Linked DNA regions of Homo sapiens: region 2 is linked to region 1. Evidence: fine-mapped expression QTL. A gene starts in region 1. The other region holds a variant in brackets. All regions are shown on one strand. Distances are from middle to middle. Region 1 holds the start of SERP2 (stress associated endoplasmic reticulum protein family member 2). Region 2 has its middle 23 kb from the start of SERP2.

Evidence for each region. PIP is the estimated chance that this variant, and not a neighbour inherited with it, causes the effect.
Region 2: its variant is fine-mapped to the expression of SERP2 in whole blood (TOPMed, PIP 0.97).

What each region holds. Positions count from the first base shown.
Region 1 is chr13:44,367,866-44,378,988 of GRCh38, reverse strand. SERP2 (stress associated endoplasmic reticulum protein family member 2) reads right to left here and starts at 5,165. Exons shown (of 3, transcript NM_001010897.3): 1 at 4,880-5,165. The coding sequence starts at 4,963. LOC105370297 (a long non-coding RNA gene) reads left to right here and starts at 5,423. Exons shown (of 2, transcript XR_001749858.3): 1 at 5,423-5,592; 2 at 5,792-9,630.
Region 2 is chr13:44,345,341-44,356,463 of GRCh38, reverse strand. No RefSeq gene overlaps it. Among named protein-coding and RNA genes, the nearest start is that of SERP2, 23 kb to the left of the region's middle. The variant T/C (reference allele first, on the strand shown) is at 5,442.

The sequences.
Region 1 (11,123 bases):
GAATGGTTATGAGTGAAGCAGCATTTTGTAATAAAGCTCCTAAGCCTTAATAAAGCTTGCACTTGGGAGAAGTCTCTGAATTCTCTGGGAAGCAGAAGGGGACTGTCAAAACTGCATGAATGAAGCCCTACAGACCTCCTGCTTTTTCAAACCAAAAGCACAGACATAATAAGATCTTCCCTCCACAACACCTCCAGGTCTATGTGCAGGTAGGGCTTGGTCCTTAAACCCAAATCAGTCAGAACAACAAATATTTTCTGAGAGATGCATCAGAAAAGAAGTGAATTTCTCAAATAGAATGGGAGAGTGAAAAAAAAAACAACAACAAAGAACTCACTAATTATTTTCTGATTAGCTTGAAAAATAGGCTGCATTCAACACACGTTAAAGAATTCACATGCAAAACACACAAAGAAAAACGTGTTGGTAGAGTGGAATGTTCACAAGTATTGATTTGTGGTTGATCTCATAAAACCCAATTCCAGATTTCAATTAAATGTTGTTGACATTTAAACATTGTATTCAACATTGTAAAATATGGGCTAAAAGGTATGTTCATATCCATACAAATACCACAGCTTGACATTCAGACTGAAGGTATGTAATAGTGTTTCAAAAAAAACGAGTGGTGCTATCATCAAGGATGTAAGTTTTTGAAATGTTGAACAAGTTTTAGTAATGTTTCTAACAAAAACTTCTTTAAAAAAGGATAATCTTCCTTTGATTTTCACTGTAGTTGCTTTCCTAGAAAATTTATCATATATTAAAACTGTAAAATCTATGATGTGTTGTATTTATATGTAAAATTAAGTTCTAGGCTAATGTAAATGTAAACTGGCTTCTCATCTAAAAAAGGAATTTATTTTATCATAGATAAGGCAACAGTTCTTTAGTTTTCAGCTTACCAAAGAGCCCTTCTCTTTTACCTCACTTGGGTCCACTCGTCACTTGTATGGCCACATACTTTTTCTTGATAGCATGTGTCACAGTTTGTAGGTCTATATTTATTCTTGTGATAATTAATGTGTTTAATATCTGTCTCTCTATGAGACTACAGACCCCACAAGGGCAGGGACTATGTCTTGTTCATGTAGTAATATATAGAAATGCCTGCCACAGAACTTAAACATAGGAGATAATAAACGTTCATCAAAGAACAAATAAACATACAAGTTTCATTAAATAAGATTTCTTAGGTTAGGCAGAGTAAACACAGGTTCTAGGAAGGATATTGTCTTTTTAGTAATAATTCCTAATTGGTGTAGGATTATCCCTGTATCTCTCCTACATGAGAAATATGGATTAAAGTGTCAACGGCAGGTAGACTTTGACTAAGGATTAAGACATTCACTTCTCTGTCCTTGACTAAGCCTGTATCTACCACCACTTACATGCCGGCAAGTCACACTGCAAAGGAATCGGTGGCTGCTCTTAATCAGACGAGGACAAGATCAGTCTTAAATAATTGCATAAGATAACTGTGCCATTTTTTGGCCCTTAAGGCCAGGCCAAGTTCAGATCCGGTAAACAACATTCATAAAGCTACCTGAACAAAGTGTGACATTCGCCCTTCCCACCCTCTTCCACCACCTTCCCAGGAACTTGTCACAGTTGCCCAGAAACCAGTTCTGTTGCTGTTGTGCCACTGATGCTATATAAAAAAATTCATTTTATCTCTATTTCCAGCAAAGCTAATAAGTGAATTCAGAAGCCTGTAATGAATTACTTGCCCAGGACAGATACCAAATAGAGTCCTTTATTTTTCATATGCAGAAAAAACAGATGATCAGCATGTAGAGCTTGGACCATATAACACAAAAACCTTTTGGATGACATTCTCCATGGAATCAACATGATTTGGGGACTTTGGCTGATCATAGTACCCATATATCTTTTTTTTGACAGCTTTGGGTGACTACTTTTTAGAAGGGGTGCCCAGCACAATCCCATTGGGACAATTCACATAAACCTTACTCTATGGCTGGAAAAGGTGGGGAAAACTAGTAGTGATTCTGCAAATGACATGGTTTACTCCAAACATGAGTTTGCTACTTCTTGAGGCTCCAAAAATGTCAGGGAATGGCTTTCCCTGTGATTAAGATACCCGTAGGGTAACTCAGAACTCTGAAATTTAAATTCCCCCTTCATTCTGGAGAAGTTACTACTGTATAATCACAAAATGATTATTCCATTTCTCTGTTTCCTTTTTTTTTTTAGACGGAGTCTTGCTCTGTCACCCAGACTGGAGTGCGGTGGCGTGATCTCGGCTGACTGCAACCTCTGCCTCCCGGGTTCAAGCCATTCTCATGCCTCAGCCTCCTGAGTAGCTGGGATTACAGGCGCCCACCACCATGCCTGGCTAATTTTTGTATTTTTAGTAGATACGGGGTTGTGCCATGTTGGCCAGGCTGGTTTCGAACTCCTGACCTCAGGTGATCCATCCGCCTTGGCCTCCGAAAGTGCTGAGATTACAGAAAGTGCTGAGCCACCACGCCCGGCCTTGTTTCTTGGATTAGTCTGCTATCTGGGAGAATAATATTAATTTATCCGTAAGCTATTAGCTAATAATAAAATACTGAAGCATCTGCATACAATTAAAGAAGTTTATTTCTGAACAATTAGTCTGAATTTTCAGTTGGAATCTATACTTGTTCCCATTTAATGAATTTCATCCTGAATAGTGATCTTTTGCAAGTTACTTTTAACAAAGTATAATCATATTTGACTTGTAATTGAGAACATGAGATTTAGGATTTATCAAGTTTCTCTTTGAAAGAAAATTTCATTTTTCTATTGGATAGTAATCTATTTACAATAACATTAACCAAAATCCCCCCAACCAATGCAAAGCAAACATTGATTGTGGCTTGGTCTGGAAACCTTTCATTACAAATTTAGCTGGGCCATTTAAAAACTCTTATAGGTGCAAGGCACTATGAGAGTTTCTTGGGGGCCACCCCATGACATATCAGAGCATATTAAAATGAACTCATACTGTACATTAAATATAATTTAAATGTAGCTCTGAACATTGAGTTGAATGGCAGGTGACTGGTACCTTTTCTAGGTATTTAAACAATGTTTTCCCAATTTTTCCATTTTCTTCTTTTATTTTGGAGCTAATAATTTTTGTTTTGGGTCCCAAACATTTTCTAGTTTTCTTGAAGAACTTGAGGTGGCAGACACTGAGTCTACAGAACCTAATAGATACAACAGCCTTAGAAATTAGTTCTTGTTTTCTTCTTACTTTTGTAATCAGATAAGCTGTCAACTGAGATCTGACAACTGAACTCCGGTTTTTTAGTTCATGAAAAAGAGCCACATGACTAGTTATTTTTCACTGTGTCAGTTAGCAGGTCTGATCCCTTGAGAAGGAAGAATTGATCTCTTAGGGATATAAAACCCTGCATGCCTTAACATCAATTATAAGTTGCTTCTCAATGTCAACCCGGGCAGCCATTTTTTTTTCCTCAGTAAAAATAGGGAAAACATAAATCAATGTGACAAAATGGTTCCAATTTGATGGCATCTTGGCATTTTGCTGCCTAATCACAACTGAGTGATATAATTCCTAAATGAGAGAATTTTAAGGATTACTTAGGTCTTGTGTATAAAGCTCTGAGTAGAGTTGAGTTATGCTTAGACTTGTGTATAAAGCTCTGAGTAGAGTTGAGTTTGGTCCTAGAGTTTCTCTGCCGTAATACTGCTTGGTTTTGCAAGAATTCTGGTGTGATGATTACAGATCTAGCTTTTTGCTTAGTTAATCAAACCAATATAGTTTCTTTGGCTAAAAGGAATTGATTCATCAAATCTGCAAGCTTTCCCAGCCAAACTCCAGGCTTCAGCTGGATTTCCACTTAACTGTACGGGGTAACAGATCCCAGGCGCCTTTGCTCATATACTTGGAGACCAACTTCGCCAAACTACCCATGCGACTCATGCCTCTGAATGTCCAAAGTCACAGGCCTCGCATTTTCTGTTGATGATAATCTGCTTTGCTAAAAGAAACTCCTGAGTGTAAGGCACAGGTTTTACTTAAAAGTCCAGTTGCAAAGCTTGAATTTACAGTTCTAGGGACACCGAATGCCTGACAATAAACTGGTCTCTAAAGTTATACCATGAGAATGAGTCTGAATTCACCAAGTGGAAAGAATAGGAATGCTGCCCTTAGACTTTAGCCTAGGGGCTGAGGGAGGTCTCGCTGGAAGAGAGGTAAAAGAGAAAAAAGAGGCTGGAGGGAATGTGGGTCCAAATCTCACTCCCCATTTTGAGCTCTTTCCACACCTCCAGTGAAACCGTCACAAAGGGGCTGGAAAGAAAACTTGATCCTGGTGCAAGTCTGTTGGGGAGGGAAGACAGGTGGAGTCCGGGAGGAGATGACAAGTGGCCTCCATTTAGCCATTGATTCATTCATTCATTCAACAAACGTTCTAGAACATACTAGGTTCCAGGCTCTGTGTCATGCAACGTTCTAGAACATACTAGGTTCCAGGCTCTGTGTCATGCAGTTGACTTAACTGGCCCCTAAGGATGAGGCTTTCCGTCTTTCTCCGGGACAAGGCCCAGCTGTCTCCCGGGCAGGGGGACAGGGGGTGCGGGTCGGGGAGGAGGGCTCCTCTGCGCCTCCCTGGTAGCCCAGGTAGCCACTCCCAGAGGGGCCACGACCAACCAGGGCCCTCTCCGCCCACGAGGACGCCAAGCAGACCGCGCCGCCCTGAACCCAGCTCTCAGCCCCCACTCTGCAGGACCCCGCAGAAGGGGCGGGCCGGGAGCCGGGAGGCCGGACCCTGCGCCGCTACCCGCCCGGCCCCGCCCCCACCTTCCGCCCCACCCCGCCGGGCTGCAGGGCTCTGCCTGGCCGGCGCCGACCCCGCCTTACCAGGGTTTTGGCTACGTTCCCCCTCTGGGTGATGTTTTTGCTGTGCTTCTCGTTAGCCATCCGGATCCGCTGTTTGGCCACCATGGCTTGTGCGCTCTGAAATGCTCCCACCTGCAAGGATTCCCCCTGCGTTAGCTCCTGCGACAGGGCCGAGCGCGTCCCGCCGAGGCCCCCGCGGCCCACCCGGGCGCTGCAGGTGGCAAGGCGTGGCCCCGAGCCCTGCGCACCCCGCTCCCCGAGCCCCGGCTAGCCGACTCCAGAGAGAGGCCGCAGCCCGGACGGAAGTAATCTCTCATCTCAGGAAACCCTTTCCGACTTCCTCGCCATCCTTCCGGTCCCCGCAGCCACCTACCCCGCGCGGCCACCGAGGCAGGCGCGACCGCACGTCCTCCCGCGCCGAGCGGCCGGAGCGCAGCGCGCAGAGCCGGGGCCCTGCAGTGTCGCGGTCCTGTAGCCGAATGCTGCGGGGCCGAAGGTTCGGGCGACCACGGCGTTTGTGAGCGCGTCGGGGACGGGGACGCGGCCCCTCCTGTGTTTGTCGGCCGGTGACCCACCCCAGCCCCGGGGAAGGGATGAGGGCGGCCGCGCTTCAGGCCGGGCCGCGCGGTCTCCCCTGCACCGCCGCCCCCTGGACGAGGGCTGGACCCAAGGCGGTGGTCAGGGACCTCAGAACACAAGTAGAACCAGTCCAGGCCCGGGCCCGCGCTGCCCGGGTATGGTCCACCAAACGAGCCTTCTCTTTAAGGGTCTCGAGAAGGGCCCCACGCTGGGGGACCCCACTGCAGAACTTTTCGTGAGGGCTGCAAGGAGGGCCGCGTTGTAAAATAAAGAGGAGACACGAAGCGGCATCCCCTGAGGGTTGGGGATCGGGCCGTGAGGATGGAGTTGGGACAGGCCTTTTTGCTTTGGTAGTTGTAGGGGTTGCATTGGAAGATGGGCCAGCGGCAGAGCGGAGCATGCAGGAAAGAGGAAGAGGCCTTGGACCTGCAGCCCAGGTCGGATTTGGTGGTTACTGTCTAAATCTGAAGCTTTGGCCTGCCTTGACTCCCCACCCACCCAGGGCAGCTTGGACCTCTCTCTAGCCACCCTTGTCCCGAGGGGTCTGAGTGTCTCCCAGACTAAACTGGGCATTTTCTGCAGTGGAAGGATAAAAATGGAAGCGTTTACGCGCCTCCCAGACACTGGTATTAGGGCTCAAGAGCTCTACAGATTGCCTGGGGAGGTAGGGGTGGAAGGGGTTCAGTTCCTCACTTGGAGTTAGCTCTTAGAAGCTCAGAAGAGTGGAGGCGAAGAGGGGACATTCAGCCTGGGAGATCTGGGGCAGCGGGAAGTGGGGATACCGGGTCGGGGTGAAGGCAAGCAGCAGCACCCCCAGCATGGGGAAGAAGGCCTGAGGCTGTCTCTGGCCACTGCATCTCTAGGCCTTCTCTTGGAGCGGGAGGTGGCTGGGTTTCCAGGGAATTTTGTGTGAGTAAAATTTTCCCATGTCATTGGAGAGTTAGGAAGAGCTCCTCTTTTGGGGCCTTTTTCCAAGCGGGTCCCCCTCACCCCGCTACAGGCTTCTTGTCACTCAGGCTTCAATAAAGGCCATTCTGGGGGCTGCTTGCTGTAACCTAGAAGACAGAATTGCCTAGGATCATTAGTAGAGTCATTTTTTTTTTTTCCTACTCTACAGGCCAATTAATTTGAAACAAGCTTCTATGGTCTTTTAACTGTTAGCATCACCACTGTTGTAACAGGACCATAAACCCAGTCTGCCCCACTCTAGTCCCATGTTTTTAATAACTGTTGGCTCTTTTTTAGGGGTTTGGGTGGGGGGATTCCTACCTCAGTGATCCCTGCTGAGCCTGGCTGTTGTCTGTGGTCCAGAAGGTTCCTTTACCTGACTCACTCCTCTCAGATCATGTCCAAATACCAGGAGACTGACCCAGGTCCTCACCAGGTGAGTAGAGGTCTGGCTCTGAGCGACATTAAGGAAAAGACACAGACAGAGACTGTTTTCTCTTTGGGTCTTCACATTCAGTGAGTACAGTTCAGAAGTGTTCTTAACTGAGAGAAGCCCCTTTTGGGGAAAATTTTTCTTTACTGTTGACTCCTTTTTCCTGCTATGCTTCACTTTTCCGGCATTTTAAATTAGTTTGTTTTAATTATGAGTAGACTACATCTACACAGTAAATAGTCAAACAGAAATAGGATAGAAAATGAAAAGTAAAGGTCTCTCTTTCCTTGCCACCCTCCCCAAAAAGTTCCCACGGTTCCTGGGTTGCCCTTCCAGTATATACAAGACTATTTGTATATTCCCTTCTAAAAAAAAACGGAATAGTAGTATGCAAACTGTTCTGCCACGTGCTCTTCTAACTTAATATATCAACATTATCATATCACTTATATATGACCTCTTTCTTGTAGTTGTGTTATGTCTCATAGTATGATTATACAGTAATATATTGAACTGATGTAACCATGGATGATTATTTCCAGTTTTTCTTTTTTTGTGGTTGCCAACAATGCTTCAGTGAATATCCCTGTACATAGATCAGTGTGTACTTGTGCAGGTATATCTGCGTGTGATATTGTGAAATATATATTTGATTGTAGTCCCTGTTTCCTGACCTAAAACTCTTAAATTCCTTGGACTCTCCAGAGTGATGAAAATATCTTACCTTTTGTATGCTAATGAGATGGTTGGTGACTTGGAGACCCTAGATAGCTTCAGGATGGGGACTGGTCACCAGAAAGATCAAGGCAGGATTAGAGGGTTGGGACTTTTAGTCCCACCCTGTCCCCCCAGACCTCCACAGAGAGGAGAGGGGCTGAAAGTTAAGTTGATCACCAGTGACCAATGATGTAATCAATCAGACATATGCAATGAAGCCTGTATAAAAGCCCAAAGGATAGGGTTTGTTGAGTTCTGGAGAGCAGAACATCAGGTTCCTAGAGGGTGGCGTGCTCAGAGAGGATATGGAAGCGCCACAGCCCTTCCCACATTTCTTGCCCTGTGCATCTCTTCCATCTCACTGTTCATCTATATGCTTTGTAATATCCTTCCTCATAAATGAGCAAACAGAAGTAAAGTGTTTCACTGAGTTCTGTGATCCACTCTAGCAGATTAGTCCAAACAAGGAGTGGGTTGGGGGAACTCCAGTTTATAGCTGGGCAGGCAGAGGTACAGGAGACAACCTACTACCTGGGATTGGCATCTGAAATGGGGGGCGGTCTCATAGGATCAAACCCTGAGCCCCTGCTATTTCCAGGTACATAGTGCCAGAATTGAATTGAATTAAAGGACACCCAGCCGGTGTCTGTTGCAGAATTGCTTGGTATGAGGGGAAACATCCCCCACACATCTAGTGTTAAAAGTGTGCTGGCTGTGTGAGAGTGGGAGACAACACTTTGGTTTCTCCTATATCACAACACTGGAATTAGATTCCTGGAAGTGAAATTGCTGCAACTTTTTATGTCCTTGGTTGGATGAAGAAACCTCGTGCTGTGACCTCCACTTTACCTGCTCACACCCCTGCTTTTGTCCTCTGCAGTCAGGCCAGCTCCTCTGCAGGTCTCAGTCCTGTTTATTGCCTTGAGGATCACCATCATGGACCAAGCAGTTTCCCAGCATGGATCCTGGCCCTTCTTATACTCAGCCTCCAGACCCTTATGTGGGGAGCTGGGGCTAAAGTCTATAAGCTGTGTTCCTGGAGTTCCAGAGTCACTACTAGACTACGAAGGAGCAAAGCATGGAGTCGTCTTGCTCTTTCGAGGACTTAGGAGGGGAAAATGGAAACTTGATTAAGGAGAACTTCTCCTGGGTTCATCTATGGTGGCAGCATGGAGTTTTGTAATATACCACTAGCATGCAGTGCTCAACCACAACTTTTAAAATTGTTATGGGCAAAGTGCCAGGAAACTGCTAACTGGTTAAAATTTAATTTTGGCTGGTAAAATTTTCAGCCTTTATTTTTATTTTTGAGACAGAGTCTCACTCTGTCGCCCAGGTAGGGGTGCAGTGGCGCAATCTTGGCTCACTGCAACCTCTGCCTCCCGGGTTCAAGTGATCCTCCTGCCTTAGCCTCCTGAGTAGCTGGGATTACAGGCATGCACCACCACGCCTGGCTTTTTATATTTTTAGCAGAGACGGGGTTTCACCATATTGGCCAGGGTGGTCTTGAATTCCTGTCCTCAAGTGATCTGCCCACCTCAGCCTCCCAAAATGCAGGGATTACAGGTGTGAGCCACCATGCCCAGCCAATTTTCAGCCTTTAGAGCAAGAAATCCTAACAAGCCTATGCCCATTAATCATAAATCTGCCCCACTTAGGGCACTGGATGTGTGGCTGTACAGACTGAGTTTTACCCATCTTTATAAATGATGCTACACTACTAAACTGTGATGCATTGGACATCTCTCATTTTTCTGTGGCTGACCAGCATGCAAACATTCTTTATATTTGGGGCACTCCATCACTGTGAGAGTCTTAGGACCTTCTTTCCCACCGTGGAGCATAAGGGGGCCACATACTTGGTCTCCCAACCCCTCACAGCTAGGGTGGCGTGTGATCTGGCCAATGAGATTCTCCTTTTGGGAACTGTGAATCTTGATCAAGTGGTGCAAAGACAGAGACACGTTAAAATTCATCTTGGTGGTCGAGTTTCTAGAGACTGGTAGTACCTAGCAATCATGGTGGAACCAGTGACAGTATCCTTTTTATTCCGTGGTACCTGAAATCCTTACAATAAATTCTTCCGCTTCAATCAGCCAGAGTGAGTTTGTCTTATTTACAACCAAGAACCCTGACTCATGTACATGAAAACAAACAAAAAACCAGAATGTCTTCCTTTGTCATTTCCCCTTCCAGATCTGGAGTGACTGTCATGTCACTTGAAGCTTTCACACATTGTTAGCTAGTGGTCTCTCTTCACCTTATCTCACTAAGGGGAACTGAGTATAGAGGCCTTGACGACAGGTGCTGTGGGTGGCTGGTCTCAATTATGGATGGGAGTGGTTGACAGGCACACCCTGTGTAAATAAAACCAGCAGATAACCGACACTTCAAATGAATACTTTCTTCTTTTTCCAAACCATTTTCAGTACGGCTAGAAAAGAGGAAAATTTGGCAAATCTCAGGTCATCTCCTTTTATACATGTTACTTACATTCTGGTGGAAATGTTCATGAAGTTGTCTCAATAGTGGGCAGAGAAAATCAAGAAAGCTGATAGCAAATGTTATCTGCCACATGCATTGGAGTCAACTCAATGCACTAGATTATGATTTTATGGAATCATGTTATGTTGTAACTGGAAGGAAACCCAGACAGTCATTTATTCATTCGTTTAGTGTTTATTGAGTGTCTGCTATATACCAGACACTATTTTAGACACTGAGAATTCAATGGTTGCTAGAAGAATGTCTGCTTTAGAGAGCTCTAAGTTTTGTGGAGAGGACAAGTAAATGTCGTGAGATTGTCCAAATTTCACAAATGAGTAAAAGCCTCAGAATTGCAAAGGGAATTGTAGCAGACCTGAAAGCAGAATTGTGGCCTCCTGACTTCTCATTTTTCCCAAAAGTAGCTTTACTAGCTAAACTTGAATGGGAGCCAGGGTAACAGGGCACCCTCATGGCTGAGCTTTGGAGCAGCTTATACATGCACGGAAAATAAATCTCCTCTCTCTCTGTCTCTTTCTCTTTCTCCCTCACCCCGCCCCGCCACCCCCCCTCAACCCCCCACGCTGCAGAACAAAGATAAACTATTTCAGACCTCAAAGGCTTGAACTTTGGTCCACAAGTGGTGGCACAAGACAGACTTTATCCATTATGATAGCTATGTAATTCCTTGACCCTGGAGGTGATCAGATTAAGCTTTAAAATGCAAGATGTGATCAACCATCTTAAGTCTGTAATTGCCTGGCCACATCTGTTATTAATAGCAGTAAAACCGTCATATCCCGAAGGAAAAAAAAACACACCCTGCTACAGTACTTTCCCTAATGACCTCCCATGGCAATTCACTCACAACTGAAGAAAGGAGAGATGCTTCCACATGTTTGAGCCCAAGCTGTAGCCATGTGTCTGCTATAATTTCATCAGTTATTTCAGGATAAAGCCACTTTGTTTCTGTTCAATCAGGTGCATGTTTTTAATAGCTGGAAGAGTTTCCTGGTAGGGCAGGAATAACATCGGTAATCATATCTAGCATTTCCTAAACACCTACTGAGGGCCAGACACTTCACCTGCACTTTCTCACTCCTT
Region 2 (11,123 bases), 23 kb after region 1:
AAACTCATATCAGAGTGGTTAAGGGTGTAGGTTTTGAGTTCAAATCCTGACTTTCTACTTATTAGCTAGGTGACTTAAGACAATTACTTGACTTCTCTAAATCTCAACTTCATCACTTGTAACACCAGTTTAATAATACTTAATCTCCTCAAGTAATGCATAACACTTGGTGAAAGTAGCAATTATTATTGACCAACTGTTTTGGCTGGAGGTTCCACAGGATACAAATTAATCCTCTCATGTCATTTCTGCATAAGAAAATAATGGATAAATGACTAGCAATGGGCCACAACTAGTTTGCTAAAGATATAAACCACTACTTTAAAGAGTTCTGGGAATCTCTCTTGGTTTGAAAATAAAAACACATTTGTGTTTTTGATTACATATATCCTAATACTATCTGAACTGTATTAAAAAAAAAAACCCTAGCACATGCTTAACTTGACACGTTTATGATCACATTTTCTCAGAGCAATTTCCATTGGATGTGTTGTTTCACAGATTGTGTTACTAGCGAGTTAGGCAAAATGGAAAATAAGATATCAAGTTGACATCTTGGATAGATGAAAATACAGATTAATGGGGCAGGGGAATTCACTCAGGGCTGTAAGGAAGTACACTGTAAGTTGAGCAGTAATTTCATTAGAATATGCCAGAAGATACAGGCAAATTGCCAGGCTGGGATATGACAAAAGTGAATACATTGGCTTTTACTGTCACAGCAGATTGTCAGATTTTTTTAAAGGAATGATTTTATGGGTCTATACATTGGAAGGAAAGAAAAAGAGAAATTCAGGGCTGTTGCTTATGAGATAGGTTGAAAGCGTGATCAGAAAAGCAAGATAAATAAAATATTTGGCATGCAAGCCCATAAGAGGACACAGATAAAATCTTTGTGTTTTTTTTCCTTGGTTGCTGTTAGAGCAAAACAAAACAAAACAAAACAAACAAACAAAAAAAGAATGAGAATTTGAACATCTGGGTTCTACTCCTATTTCTACTAGCTATGTGATCTTAATAAACCACTTACTTCCATGCCTAATTTGTCTGATGTGTAAAAAGAGAATAATATTTATTCTTTTAATTCATGAAATTTTTGTGATAATCTATCAAATAAAACAGATGAAAAAATCTTTGAAAAATATAAAGCATAATGTGTTCTTATTATATACATTTTCTGGAACTTTTATTTTCCTGTTACATTTTTTATGTTTCAAAAGTTATCCAAATTGTTCCTCATTTCCCAAAAATGCTTAGCTAATACTTCTGTTGCTTATTAACAGACTAGATCTGAAGATGAGCTTGGGGCTTGTTTACAGCTTTATTGTGTACTTAATGCTTTCTTCAGATATGCCTATCTTGCCTACCTTCAGTCTTTCAGGAGAACCATAAAACATGTTGAAGTTATGATGATTGATTTTAAGGATACATCCTGTCTAGGGCCAAAGCTTCCACTGTGGAGGGAACCCCGTTTATTTTTTTTTCTCTAGGAAGGCTGGTATGACTGATTAAAATGAGGTAAGTTCTTATGAGCGCTTTTCTCAGGGTTGGCGATACAGATTAGATAACAGCCTAATAACATTACTGATTAATCTAGATTTACACATACCTACTATATGAAAGAGGAAAGTCAGAACTACTATATTTAGCAGAATTGAAACCTCACTAATTATAAGACATATTTTTGTGTTGTTCGTGGTAAGAAATAAGAAAAAATTCCACCAATTATAATTTTAAGATACTATAGATTATAAGTAGACCCTGATTTCAGAGATTCTTAAATGGAAGAAACTGTGTGACTTAGAAGTAATGAAATATGGTCAGGATTATAGGTGTCTATTTTGCCTGAGGAATGAATAAGGACAGACCTTATTCATTTGTGAAGTTCCCACAACAGAGCCATGAGGAAGAGATTCCTTTCCGTATTTTATGGTGAAGGAGACTGAGATGCAAATATGTTTCTCTGCCAAATGATTCAAAACAAGGAAATAATGATCCTGGAATTTAAGTCCAGGTCTGTCTGATTCCTAACTCTATCACACCATGTTGGGATTTATTGTATATTGACTTATCAGGAAGTTTTACTCTTTCTCTGACTGTATTTTAAGATTAGAGAACTTAGAAAACTTTCTTAAAATACAGCTGGCAATGTTCTACATGCTAGCTAGACTTTCCTCCCTTTTTTTTTGAGACAGAGTATCGCTCTGTCGCCCAGGCTGGAGTGCAGTGACGCAATCTCGGCTCACTGTAAGTTCTGCCTCCTGGGTTCATGCCATTCTCCTGCCTCAGCCTCCCGAGTAGCTGGGACTACAGGTGTCCGCCACCATGTCCGGCTAATTTTTTTGTATTTTTAGTAGAGACCGGGTTTCACTGTGTTTGCCAGGATGGTCTCGATCTCCTGACCTCGTGATCAAAGTGCTGGGATTACAGGCGTGAGCCACCGCGCCCAGCCTACTTCCCTCCTTTCAAAACCTCAAGTTACATTTGACTTTCACAGAATAACTGACCCCAGAATTGGGCTGGACCCAATACTTGCTCAGGTCCTTACCAGAAGACAGGCGATGTACACCCTGATTGGGAAGGAAGCTGCCTGCACCAGAGTTACGAGGAGCTAAGATGGCGCAGCCAAGGTGGTGAGCAAACTGCTTTCCAGATCAGTGCTTTTTCAGGATACCATTCTCCTTTTTATTTTGGACAACAAGTATGTAAGTATAGAAACAATAGAGAATGTAACAAATGCCCCGTGCCCACTAGCCAGAAGGAGCAGATGTGCATGTTTCATTGTATTTGCTTCAGAGAAAGTCCAAGTCCCTTTTGTTCTCCTTCCCAGTCCCATTCCACTTCTTCCTTCCCCAGGGGTCACTGCTATCACAAATGTATTGTGCATCTTTCAATTTATGCCATTTTTTCTTTCCTCATATAACATATCATAATAGTGTATTTTAAAAACACCCACAGAGATGGTGACATGATATATTTATCATCCTGTGACTTTCTTTTTTTCACTTAACATTATGTTGCCAGGATGTAACCATGTGGATTTATGATAATCTAATTCATTCATTTCAACTTCTGCACAGTGTTCCCCAGTGTGAATGGGCCACAAAATCTATTAATCCCTCTATCTTTGGACATCACATAGACTGTTACAGTGAAACTTCTTACACACATCTCCTTGTGCACATATGGGACGTTTCCTCCAGAAATATATAGCTGGAAATGGTATAGCTGGGTGATAGGCCACATGCATTTTCAATATACCAAATGTTTTCTGAACTAATTTATACCATCAGCCATGTGCAAGAATTCTCATTTCCCCCACATGTTTGACGATATGAAGAACTGGTATTTTCAAATTTTGCCAATTGGTTGGGTGGGAAATGGTAGCTCTGTTGTTTTCATTGACTGGTGATATTTTATTTTTGACATGTGTTAAAGCTTGTGGGAATGTGGACTGTGCCCACACACCACAGGTCTCAGCCTCCTAGGAGCTGCATCTACAATCCACTCTGTAATCCTCGCTTGAAGTGTCTGAAGCAGACAGGGGTGGTGGGTGGGCCAGGGTGCTGGCAGTGTGTGTGGGAACTGTGTCATGCTCCATGACCAATGACTGCTCTGTGCCCACATCCTGTTAGTCTGCAGGACTTCAGGGCTGTAACAAATATTGACTCCAATTTTCTTAAGTGTAGGCTTCTCTCTGTTTATTGGTTGGACATATTTAAAGCCAGTCTTCTCGGTAAGCATGCAGTATAGCCAACACCTCCAGGCAACAACCCTTGGCAGAAAATGTTCTGCTCCAAGATAGCAGCAACATCTCACTTTAAAAATTTATGCCAAGGAGACATGGTGGTAATAACTTGTTGACCGAGATTCTCCCTGGGCCTCGCTCCCTTACTCTTCAAGGTCACGTAAGCATTAGGCATTGGGTGGTGTTGAGGAACCTGGGATTTGGAGTACACAAGATAGCTGATCTCAGCTCCACCTCTTAACAAATAGATGATCTTGGGAGAGTTATCTCTAAACCACATCTGTAAAATGGTGAGCATAATAACAGCTACCCTATAGAATTGCTAGGATTAAATAAGGTAATGCAGACACACAGGAAGAGCTCATTAGATGTCAGCTATCTGTGTAACACATATCTCATTTGTGTATGGTATTGCAGATCACAGTAAATGATGCAAGTACAACAAGATTTGCACTGGTTTTCAAGTTCAGTCCCCTATGTAATGTATTGTACCATTTGCATTGTTACCTTGTATAGAGATTGCAAACAGGCAGCCTGTGGGAAAGTGTTTTATTTGGCTTACAAAATATTCATTTTCATTTTAATTTGATTCAACTTTTAAAAACTGGGAACTCGCAAGTAAATATCTTGAAGTTTTGCTTCTCTTAAAAAATCGAAGCTCAGCTAACATCAGTCCAGATGTCTATGTATTTAAAATAATCCTGAGAAGCCTCTTTAAAGGTTATGTTCTCTCCTACTTGTCATGGCCCCCTGCACACACACTGGGCCCCCTTCCTGGCCCTCATAGGAAGCTGAATTTGCAGCTCCTGCTTTTTGTGACTGCCGGTTCCTCCATGATGATTAACTATTAATAGCATTCCCTGAGCAGGTAGGTCCTTACAATGTCCTCCTCCAGGGACAGAGGGCAAAAGAGGAAAGAATGCTAATATTTGGTGGCAGCCAGCTCCAGTGCTAGACAGTTGTGCTCTGCAGATTTTATACCCTGTGTTATTGAATCTTCTTCACACTAGCTGTGAGACAAATGCTGTCATTCCCATTTTACAGACGGTGAAACATGTTTGGCGAGTTGAGTAACTTGCCCAAGGTCACTGCTACAAAGACGCAGAGCTGGTATTTGAGGCTGGCCCTTTAGAACTCCTAACCGATTTTTCACTCATTACATTGTACCAATGGATAGAAAATCAGCTTATCAGAGATTTGAATGGCCATCCCAGCTGAGGCTCCATGTAAATGTTGCGTCAGTGTTACTGATTTTCAGGTCTGCTCCTGGGGAGAGAAGGGTGCACATGTGTGAGCCTCAGGGCATTATTTACCATGTCTGGTTGGAGCCTCTCCCCGGGTAGTCGTCTCCTTGCCCATCCCTGTGTTTATTCCCCTAAGGACTGAGGGTCATTCCCAACTGAGGAGTAGGTCTGACTCTTCAGGGATGGCTTTAAATTTCCCTGTGCCCCCACATGTTTTGAGGCACATTTTGACCGAAAGAGCCAGGCCTCCTCATTACCTGTCTGACGGAGACTTCTCAGCACAGTTCTGGAAAGTCAGAGAAAATGTCAGTCAGAGAGTTTGAGCAAGCAGAAACAGGATGTGTTCCCTTCTGAAGGTAATTACAAGGCCTGCGTAGTAAATGGTAATGAGGTGGGTGAAGTCACACAGAAGAAATGTCTCTGATTGGCTGAGGAATGTTTCTCTTACC[T/C]GGATAAATATTTTGCAGCAGTTACCTGGGTGAAAACCAACTTCCTGTAAAGGGTTGATTAAAAAAACAAAACAAAGACTCTCGTGGGGTGAATGTTCCGCACTGTGTAATTATTTCCCAACTAATGATACCAACTCGACCTTAGGCAAAAGGAAGGCTCAAAACCAATTCTCACTGGTGAAGGAATGCTTCAAAGTGTATGTCTATTGCTCCATAGCTTCAAGGTGAGAACCACTTGTTCCCTTTGTTCTTCAAACAGAATTAACAGCTAACAGAACCTCCTTAAATTAAAAAAAAAAAAGCACCATTTAATTTAATACCCACAATTTAGTAGAAAGTCCTGTACTGTGGCCTTAGAAGCCAGAAGACAGCACTGAGATCCTTGGTCAGTGAACTTAACTTCTTCGTTTTCACCTACACAAATGAGATGATATTATAATATGCCAATTTCTACTTTGTATAATGAGGATCAAGGAAGACTATGATCAATTCAGGCAACAGACATTTATTGTCGATTACATGCCAGGAACATACGACAGATACTGGGAACAGGGGATGAAAGGGTCCTTGAGCCTCAAACACTCGCAGTTTCCTGGAGACAGAAACTTCAATGTGTGATGTGTTCCATATTAAAGGATGACCGAACACTGGGGTAGAATCCGTTCTGTGTGACCCCAGGGGAGCCCAGGGAAGGCCATCATCCTGCTCTGGGTTGGCAGTCGGTAAGAGGTGACACTGTGCTAGGTCTTGAAGGTGCATGGGGGTCCACCAGAAACAGAAAGGGGGTGTCAAGGAGTGGGTGTGGGCAGAGGGAAGAGCATGTGCTTGTGAAACAGCATGGGGGAAACCCTGGCAGCACCCCCTGCCCACTACCGAATGTAGTTGCAGGGTTCAGTGGGCCCCAGGCAGAGAAGCTGGGAGGCTGGCGTCTAGGGCAGGGCTGTGGGGTGAGGCACTTGGGCCTGCTGCTGGAGGTGAAGGGCCGCCACCCAAGGAAGGGATATTTGGACCTTTTTCACTGCAAAGTGCTTTTTTATGCCATCCTAGACCTAGTGTAGGTGATTTCTCACAGCCTTCCACTTGCTCTTCCAATCACATTTCCTCACCCAGCCTTGGGCTCATCCTCAGCCAGGATTTCTGCCGTGCAGGGCCTCATCAGCCTCATTTGCAGCGTGCTCCGGACACATGTCCCTCTAACTCTATTCCTAGGAGAGATTCCAGGCCCCTGTGAAGAAAGCGCTGCCTCTCTGAGCATCCCAGGACTCAGCAGGCTCTCTCCCTGCCCTTCTGTGTTTCCTTCCAATCCCACACTCGCCACCTTGACCTTGCCTCTTCAGCAGAGTCTAGAGGAGTCTTTGGTCTTATAAGGGAGCAAGAGTTAGACTTCCTCGACGACAAAGTGCAGGAGCCCGCTGGTATGTCTTTTTTTTTTCTCCCTTTAGGGAAGATAAAAGTATTGGGCCGGCTCCCTTCCTCACCTGGGCAATCTAGACTGTTCCAGAGCAAGAGTTCCAACGAAGAAGCATAGCACTCTGGTCTAAGCATGGAAAACTTATTAATGGAAAATTAATGGAAATTAATGGAAAACTTAAACTGGTGAATAAAATGTACTGTCTGCCTAGCGTGCAAAATAGCAACAAAATTTAAAAATACGTGTTAAGCTGTTGTTTTTACTTGACTAGTAATTGGCAAAATATTACAGACTACTGAATTTAATTATCATTGTACGTGTCTAGGTCATCTTTTGATGAGCTGGCAATGTTTACATAAATAATAAATAGAGGCTTAAATAATGATTCTTATATAATCACTACATACATTTTATTTTTATCACCTATTTTAGCTTGGTCGCTATTTTGTTCTAATCAAGATTTTCACATCATTTATGCTCACTTCATAATAGTGGTATAAAAGATTAAAAATACAAATATATTTTTATTTAAACTATATTTAAAAGGTGAATTAATGTAAATGTGAAAAATTTGAATTATTTTATATACATTTTAAGCCACTTATTTTTCTCCTAAAATAGTTGAAATTACTTTTTAAAGTTAAAAGGCAAGTTACCAACAATAGTTAATGAATACCAAACTTTTAGATCAAAATTATCTAAATACAGCTGATGATTTAAAATGATTTAGTTTTGCAAATATTTAAATCCTATTAAATATTTCATAAAAATAAATCTATCTGCATTTCTAGCATTAAACATCTATCTAGTTGCCAACTAAAGAATTGCTATCATGTTTTATGCAGTCATAGATATATTTATAAATATACAAATTTGTTTAATATTGCAAAATGTTTTCCTGTCATCATGTCACAAATGCTCCACTGATTTACAAGTACATTCATTCCTCAGTAATTGCAGGGGATTGGGCCCAGTACTATGACAGATATCAAAATTAGTGGATGCTCAAGTTCCTGATATAAAATGATATAGTATTTGCATCTAACCTAGGTACATCCTCCCGTATACTTTAAATCATCTCTAGATTATTTATAATACCTAATACAATATAAATGCTATGTAAACAGTTGTTATACTGTATTATTTTTCTATTGGTATTATTTTGTACTGTTGTAATGTTATTTTTATTTTTTTTCCCTACTTTCTATGCATGGTCAGTTGAATACATGAATATGGGATCCATGGGTACTGACTCTACCTCCAGAACCACGCACTTGAGCACAAATAGGTCACTCAGCACTACAGTGAACCTATATTTAACTTTGTAAGAGTCTATGTCATCCATGTTATCTGAAAGGAAGATCACTCAAAAATTCCTAATACTTTGAAGCAATATCTGCCTCGGACCTTGGCAGTGGCCCAACCCATAAGCCGTCATGGCATTTGGATGAAATTCTCTTTTAGTTCAAGGACAAAAGTGCAAGAGGGGTGGACAGGTGATTCTGTGGAGCCTGAACAGTGTTAGCCATGGGAATGTTTTAGTTATAAAAGAGAATGTTTAGGGTTACAAGTTATGCTGTGCCACTGATGAACACCAGATGTGCATGACAAATACCAGAGTCCCCTGTATTTTTTTTTTTTACTACATTTATTTTTTTCTTGTCTTAAGTGCATTTATATTATGTAAGGCCCTCTAAAGCATGGAACAAATAAAGTACAGGATATGCAGTTAAATGTGAATTTCAGATAAATGATGAAACTTTTAAAATATAAGTATATCCCAAATAATGCATGGGACATACTTATACTAAAATATTGTTCATTATCTGAAATTAAGAATTAATTTTTCTTAATTATTAACTGTGGTTTATTTGCTAAATCTGGCAAACTTAGGAGCAACAAGCACACTCTCTTTTGCCCAGACCTAGAGAAAGCACTAATAGTCCCAGCTACTCAGGAGGCTGGGGTGAGACCATCACTTGAGCCCAGGAGTTTGAGGCTAGCCTGGGTGACATAAGGAGACCACCCTTTCTGAAAAAAACAAAAACAAATACAATACTAATCATGGCTTGATGATTAAAGAAATAGCTGGAAGAGAAGAGCCCATTTCCTAATTTCCTACAGACATTCCTACATTCCTGGTAAGAAACTCACCTTCCAGGCTCTACCTCCTTTTTTTTTTTTTTAGATATAGTCTGACTCTGTCACCCAGGCTGGAGTGCAGTGGCACGATCTCAGCTCACTGCAACCTCTACCTCCCAGGTTCAGGTGATTCTGGTGCCTCCGTCCCCCAAGTAGCTGGGATTAGAGGTGCCTGCCACCACGCCCAGCTAATTTTTGTATTTTTAGTAGAGACGGAGCTTTGCCATGTTGGCCAGGCTGCTCTCAAACTCCTGACCTCAAGTGATCTTCCAACCTTGGCCTCCCAAAGTGCTGGGATTACAGGGGTGAGCCACCATGCCTGGCCTACTGTACCTACTTCTGGTGATAGATAGAAATAATGCACTTTGTGTGTATTACTTAGCACACAAAAAAACGGAAAGGTGGGTCCCTGAATTCTGGAAATCCTCACAAAGACTCCTGTGAGAGGAATGTTGAATTTTCTTTCTACCCATCACCAGAAGTAGGTAGAGTCTGGGAGGCTAGTTTCTTACCAGGAATGTCTATAGGAAACTAGAAAATGGGCTATTCTTTCCCAAATATTTGTTTAATCATCAAGCCATGGAGTGTCATTGGTTCATTCTGCCATATAGCTTGAATAGTTGCTAACTCTATTTATTTATTCATTCATTCATAAAATGTTTATTAGGCCTTTTTATGTACCTGACACATTTATATTACACCTACTAGTTATAAAACCCCATGGAGTCAATATTATTATCTCCATTTTACAGATGTAGAAATGAAGCTCAGTGAGGTTACATAATTTGCATGAGAACACCCACTTGGTAAGTGACAGAGGAAGAATTTAAACCTATGTTGTTCTGACTTCCAACTTCTAGTAAAAATGTAGGCTGTGTTGTGGAAGGAGGGGAGAGCTAATATTTCTTTAGTACCTATTATGCCCCAGGCACAACCTGATATACTTTATTGACAAACTTTCTTCAAATTAGATTAAATTGTGACCTCTCAGAAAAGCAAAAATGAAAGAAATACAAAATTGTTTCCATAAGATAAAACTATAGTGCTCAAACAAGAAGAAGGAGGACTAGTTCTTTCTAAAACTTGTATGGAAATGCAAAGGACCTAAAATTGCCAAAATAATTTTGGAAAAAGAAGAACAAAGTTGGAGGACTTACACTATCTGATTTCAAAAGTTGTTTTAAAGCCACAATAATTAGATACAAAAGGATAGACATATAGGTCAATGGTAAAGACTAGAGTCCGGAAATAAATTCTCACATTTGTGGTTAATCGAATTTTGAAAAGGGTGCAAAGAACAAAAGGGTAGCCTTTTTAACAATGGGGGAAAGAAGAGACTTTTCAAAAATGGTGCAGGAACAATTGGATGTCTGTATACACAAACAAACAACAGCAACAATAATAAAGTGTTTAGATTTTTACCTCACACCATATGTAAAATATAACTCAAAATATACCATAGATCTGCATGTAAGAACAAAAGCTATGAATCTACTCAACAAAATCAGTAGAAAAATCTTTGTGAGCTTAGGTTGGGCCAAAGTTTCTAAGATGTGAGTTGCATAAAAGAAAAAATAGATGTTAGCCTTTATCAAAATTATGAACTTCTGCTCTTTTAATGACATTGTTAGGAGAATGGAAAGACAAGCCACAGACTGGGAGAAAAGATTTGCAAATCATTTATCTTTGATAACGGACTTGTATCTAAAATACATAAAGAATGCTTATGACTCAATAATATGACAAGTCAATAATAAGCAAAATGTGTAAACAATTTAAACATATTTACCAAAGAAGATACATGAATGGAAAAACAAAAACACATGAATAGATGCTTGTCATTAATCATTAGGGAAATGCATACAAAGCCACAGTGAGATACCAGTACATATCCACTAGAATGTCTATAATCAAAAAGATGGTCAATACCAAGTGTTGGAGAGAATATGGAGACACTGGAGCTCTCATATGTTGTTGGTAAGAATGTAAAGATGGTAGTTTCTTTGGAAAGCAGTTTTGTAGTTTTAAAAAACTTAAATTTACTGTAGAACCCGGCAGTCCTACTTCTAGGAATCTAGTAAAAAGACATGAAAGTACATAGCCACACAAAGACTTGTATATAAATGCTT